Linked DNA regions of Homo sapiens: region 1 is linked to region 2. Evidence: fine-mapped expression QTL. A gene starts in region 2. The other region holds a variant in brackets. All regions are shown on one strand. Distances are between the middles of the regions.

The links. PIP is the estimated chance that this variant, and not a neighbour inherited with it, causes the effect.
Region 1: its variant is fine-mapped to the expression of MED25 in transverse colon (GTEx, PIP 0.93).

The regions. Positions count from the first base shown.
Region 1 is chr19:49,855,632-49,858,524 of GRCh38, forward strand. It overlaps PTOV1 (PTOV1 extended AT-hook containing adaptor protein), which reads left to right. Exons shown (of 12, transcript NM_001394010.1): 6 at 1,344-1,499; 7 at 2,062-2,151; 8 at 2,273-2,346; 9 at 2,426-2,483. It overlaps PTOV1-AS2 (PTOV1 antisense RNA 2), which reads right to left. Exons shown (of 5, transcript NR_110730.1): 4 at 2,716-2,796; 5 at 834-1,441. Among named protein-coding and RNA genes, the nearest start is that of PTOV1-AS2, 2.2 kb to the right of the region's middle. RefSeq lists enhancers at 552-611, 642-691. The variant C/A (reference allele first, on the strand shown) is at 1,158.
Region 2 is chr19:49,817,173-49,820,065 of GRCh38, forward strand. MED25 (mediator complex subunit 25) reads left to right here and starts at 1,117. Exons shown (of 18, transcript NM_030973.4): 1 at 1,117-1,303; 2 at 1,399-1,444; 3 at 2,000-2,124. The coding sequence starts at 1,170. RefSeq lists an enhancer at 676-1,035 and silencers at 1,073-1,239, 1,166-1,325.

The DNA of each region.
Region 1 (2,893 bases), 38 kb after region 2:
GCGGCCATGACCTGGACCCGGGGGGCTGCCAAGGGATCTGAGAGCGGCTTCCGCAGCACTCCAGGGTTGGGCTGGTTGAGGGGTAGAGATGACATTTTCTGAGGTAGGGAGGACAGGGGAGCCGTGCTTCCTAGGGCCACCGGGAGGCTGGAGGGAGGGAATTTGTGTAAAGCGCTTGAGATGGTGACTTTAGTACCTAGTGAGTGCTGGGTGAACCCAGCTGGTGAGGCTGTTCAGGTGACTGAGATTCTGGCGCAGGGCAGGTCAGAAAGGGGGCTTGGGCTGTGAAAGATGGCAGGTGCTGGAGAGGAGGCAGGGGTGGGGTGGGAGCGAGTTGTCTGCCCAGAGGACCTGGCTCTGGGACATTCCCAGTCCCTGTTCCCTGTTGGGACAGTCTGCCTCTACCCGTCCCAGCTGCCGTTGAGCGCCCTGGGTTCCGCTAGGGCCTCCCTTCTCCCTCAGGAGACCAGGGGCAGACCAGGGCTTGTGCCTGGCATGAGGTCTCTTAAGTGACCCGTTCCCCCTTCACCCAGCACCGTTTGTTGAGGGCCTGCCATATCTGGGCCCCGAGTACCCAGTCTGTAGGGAAAGTGGACATCCATACTCACCCCCCAGGCATGGCCCTGGGAGGCTGACTGTGCATGGCTCCAGGGAGGCCAGGGACAGGGCCCTGAGCGGGTGATCCCTGGGCTGGACACCAAGGTTGAGAAGTTAGGCCGGCAGCGTGGAGGGGACAGCACTGTGGGGGTGGCCCGGTGTGGGGAGGGGACATGGGGTTTTGGGACGGTCACACCACTTCATCTAGACACCACAGCCAGGCACATCTGTCAGGCTTAGTTCTCCCATGCGCCATCCTCAAGAGGCACCAGCACTTTATCTGTTGAGCCTTTATGTGGCACCAACTGTGTGCACTATTACCCGGTTTTACAGATGATGGAGGCCCAGAAGCAGGAGGTGGCTGGTGTTAGGTCACACAGCTAGGAGGCAGCAGAACGGTGGGGCGCTGCCTGTGCTCTTAACCCCCAGGCCAAGTCACCCCATCAGGCAGTCAGGAGGGCTGGCGGCAGGGGGTGATGTGGGTGGGAGGTAGTGCCTTCTTGGCATTCTCACCGCAGCCTGGGTGCCGGGTGCCACTCTGACCTCAGCCATGGCAGGGT[C/A]GGGGGATGCCGATGGGCGCTGCACGGGCTCTCAGAGGCCCCTCACCTATGGCCATGGCCTTGACTGTGGGGGCCTCTGTCCACCGATGATCTCCCTTCATCCCCTACAGGTGGGGCGGTCCAGGGTGGTGGGGGCACAGTGGCCCCGGGCAGTGACCACAGGGTCCTGACCCGCGGCCCCCGCAGGCGGGCTGCATGCTGTTCCCCCACATCTCCCCCTGTGAGGTGCGCGTGCTCATGCTCCTGTACTCGTCCAAGAAGAAGATCTTCATGGGCCTCATCCCCTACGACCAGAGCGGCTTCGTCAGTGCCATCCGGCAGGTCATCACCACCCGCAAGCAGGTGTGCCAGCCAAGCACAGCCCCTCTGGGGACAGAGGGGGATTAGACCCCACTGCCCTGGTTGGGCAGCCAGACTTGGTGTGGGCGGAGTGTGATGCGATGGCTGGAGCAAGGAGCTGCAGGGGAGCCCGGAGGATGCCGGGCGGGTTCCCACCAGGGCTCCATGGAAAAGCGGCCACTGGGCGGCTCTGCAGGGCTGGAGGGTGGGTCTTGGCGCGGCGGCAGGGAAGCCAGCGGAGCGGGGAGCTGGGCAGGGGTTGGGATCGTCCTGCGGCTGGAAGGCCCTGCCTGGTAACCACGTGTCCTGGTCATGCCTTGCCAGTTGAGGCAGACTCTGCAGGTCCTGTGCACCAGGTGAGGGCCGGGACCTGTCTCAGGCCACTGGGGAGCCATGGGGGGCTGTGAGCAGATGAGGGGCAGGGCCTGTTCCCCTGGGACTAGAGAATGGACCCAGCTGGGGCTAACAGGCCAAGGCTCGGAGGGAGGGATGGCAGGCCCCAGGACAGACAGACAGGTTTCCCAGGAGCCTGGGCCCCTCTTCCCACCCCGTTCCCTTCCAACAGGCAGTGGGACCTGGTGGTGTCAACTCAGGCCCAGTCCAGATCGTCAACAACAAGTTTCTGGCATGGAGTGGTGTCATGGAGTGGCAGGAGGTGAGCACTCGGCAGCCCAGGGACTTGGGACCCCCAGATCCTCACGGACTGTGGCTGGGAGGGGACACTGGCATTGGGGGTCTCCAGCCCTGAGGGCTCCTCTTTGCCTCTCCCCCAAAAGCCCAGGCCTGAGCCCAACAGTCGGTCCAAGAGGTGGCTGCCATCCCACGTCTACGTGAACCAGGGGGAGATCCTGTGAGTGCTGGGCTGGGGGGTGGAGGCAGCATCCAGGGGAGCTGGGGCTTCCTGACCCTCGTCCCTTTGTGCCCCACAGGAGGACCGAGCAGTGGCCAAGGAAGCTGTACATGCAGCTCATCCCGCAGCAGCTGCTGGTGAGGGGCTGGGGCCGGGTGCTGGAGCCTGCACGCAGTAGCTCTTCCAGAGGGCGGGGCTGGGGGCAAGAGCGCCTCCCCAGGTGGCCTGAGCTGGCTGTGAGGGAGCGGAGCTGAGGGTGCTGAAGCAGGTGTGGTGGGTAGCTCCTCAGGCTTGGCTTCAAGGGGTCCCAGGCAGCCAGCTGGTGGCTGTGCAGGGACTGAGCGGGGCAGGGGCAGCCACGACCTGCACCTGGGGGGCTGCCAAGGGATCTGAGAGCGGCTTCCACAGCACTCCAGGGTTGGGCTGGTTGAGCGGTGGAGATGACGTTTCCTGAGGTAGGGAGGACAGGGGAGTCTCAGTTTGGTCCTGGGCCCGGGGGACTCAGCGGGCTGGGAGCCGGGAGGCCGTGGTGGGAGAAGCCAGAGCT
Region 2 (2,893 bases):
CACGCTAGAAAGATTTTCCCAGTTGGCCGTATATTTTTCAACTTGGTTTATACAGTCTTTTGGGAAAAATTAATGAAGACTACGTTTTCTAACTTTGCTGTAGTGCTAAGAAACTCCATGGCAGTCATTAAGATTTTTTCCCTTCAGATAGTTTTCGGGTTTCATTTGTTGCACTTACATTTTTAATCCACCTGGAATGTATTTACGTTCTAAGCCAGTTTCTGGCTCCTCTCCCAGAAAACAACGCTCAGGTGTTGCTTAGCAACCCGCACTTGGTTTGGTGTTCGGCTTCTTTTCGGGGGGGAAAACAACTGCCCTCCCTTCCAAGTTGAGGACGACCTTAAAGCGTCGCCTAGTAACCTCGTTTCCGCCGATGTGATTGGATCCTTCTCGCGTCCCTCCCCTAGTCCCCACGCCCGAAAGAACAGAACCAGAAACTTAATCTAACGGTTACAAAACAAGGGCAGCGGGCCCGGCGCGGTGGCTCACGCCTGTAATCTCAGCACTTTGGGAAGCCAAGGCGGGCGAATCACTTGAGGTCAGGAGTTCGAGAACAGCCTGGCCCACAGGGTGAAACTCTTTCTCTACTAAAAATACAAAAATTAGCGGGGCGTGGTTGCGGGCACCTGTAATCCCAGCTACTCGGGAGGCTGAGGCAGGAGAATCGCTTGAACCCGGGAAGCGGAGGTTGTAGTGAGCCGAGATCGCGCCACTGCACTCCAGCCTGGGCGACAGGGCGAGACTCCCGTTTCGAAAAAACAAACAAACAAAAAACAAAACACAAAAACGAAAACAAGGGCAGCGTACGCGTTGCATAGCAACCAGGTCTCCTGCCCCTCCCTTTGAGACAAGAGGCGGACCTGGACGCCCCGCTCAAAGATGGCGGCTGACTGAGCCGCTTTCAATTTATTTAGCTTTTGACAATAATTCCGTCTAACCCATCAGGCCCCTAGAAGGGCTAACTATGCCCTTTCTGAGTCTTCCACGCGGTGGGGGCGAAGGAGGATGGAGCTAGAACGAAGCCTCAGCGCGTGCCCCGCACAAACATGGCAGCATTCCCAGCAGCCCTAAACCGCCCGACGCGAGCGCGCGCGCGGCGCAGGCGCATTTCTGCTCATTCCGCGGCGTCGGCTGCGGCTGCAGTGGTGGTGGCGGGTACCGCACGGGGTATGGTCCCCGGGTCCGAGGGCCCGGCCCGCGCCGGGAGCGTGGTGGCCGACGTGGTGTTTGTGATTGAGGGTACGGCCAACCTGGGACCCTACTTCGAGGGGCTCCGCAAGCACTACCTGCTCCCGGCCATCGAGTGAGTGCTGTTTCCGCGACTCTAACCCCGCCCTCCCACTTCAGTTTCGCACAGTTTCTTGCCTGACTCCGACCTTTCACTTCCTACCCTCACAGGTATTTTAATGGTGGTCCTCCTGCTGAGACGGACTTCGGGGGAGACGTGAGTCTAGGGACTCCTGGGCCTGAGGGAGGAGGGGCCGGGGGCCTGGACTCCTGGGTCTGAGGGAGGGAGAAAGGGCTGGGCCTGGACTCCTGAGTTTGAGGGAGGAGGGGCTGGGGGTCTGGACTCCTTGTTCTGAGGGAGGAGGGCCTGGGGGCCTGGACTCCTGGGTCTGAGGGTGGAGGCGCTGGGGCCCGGATTCCTGGGTCCGAGGGAGGAGGGAGCTAGGGGCCCAGATCCCTGGGTCTGAGGGAGGAAGGGCTGGGCGTCTGGACTGCTGGGTCTGAGAAAGGAGGAGCTGAGGCCTGGATTCCTGGGTCTGAGGGAGGAGGTGCTGGGGCCTGGGCTCCTGGGTCTGAGGGAGGAGGGGCCGGGGGCCTGGATTCCTGGGTCTGAGGGAGAAGGGGCTGGGGCCGAGATTGCTGGGTCTGAGGAAGGAGGAAGCTGAGGAGTTCCTGGTTCTGGAGGAACGGGAAGCTGGGAGCCCTGATTCCTTCTCTAAGGGAAAAGGGAATTGAGGTCCCAGATTAAAAGTTTTCTGTCCTCCCCTCCCAGTATGGGGGGACCCAGTACAGCCTCGTGGTGTTCAACACAGTGGACTGCGCTCCCGAGTCCTACGTACAATGTCACGCTCCCACCAGCAGCGCCTATGAGTTTGTCACCTGGCTCGATGGCATTAAGTGAGCTTTCCCCCACTTGGGGTGGGTTGCTGGTCCCTGTGAGGGGCCGTGAATGAGTGATGGCTTGGGGTGGTTGGTGTCCCCGTGAGAGGCTGTGAATAAGTGATGGCTTGGGGTGGTTGGTGTCCCCGTGAGGGGCTGTGAATAAGTAATGGCTTGGGGTGGTTGGGGTCCCTGCGAGGGGCCGTGAATGAGCGATGGCTTGGGTTTGAGCTGCAGGAAACATCTCATACATTAAGGGATTGAAAGGACTTTGAGGGTGATTGTGTTTTTGTCAGAAGTCACTTTTGTGGTGGCTTCTGTGTGCTCAGCAATGTTGCCATCAGTTTAGAAGTAGGAAAAACCTTCCCATTCAGGGAGGCCTGGCTGAGCTCCAGCAGCCACCTTGTACTCCCTGTGTGATTGTCCCCTTTCTGTCCTCTCTTTTTCCGTCTACCCCTGTCCTCCTTTTCCAGATGGGTACATTGTAGCCTCAGTGCAGGGGGATGGGTCAGAGCCAGGATAGATCCCTCTGTGGCTTGGGTCAGAATTTTTTTTTTTTTTTTTGAAACAGTGTCTTGCTCTGTCTCCCAGGCTTGTAGTGCAGTGGCACAGTCGTGGCTCACTGCAACCTGTACCTCCTGGGTTGAAGCGATTCTTCTGCCTCAGCCTCCCAAGTAGCTGGGATTACAGGCACACGCCACTATGCCCAGCTAATTTTTTTTTTTTTTTTTGTATTTTTAGTAGAGACAGTTTCACTGTGTTGGCCAGGCTGGTCTCAAACTCCTGA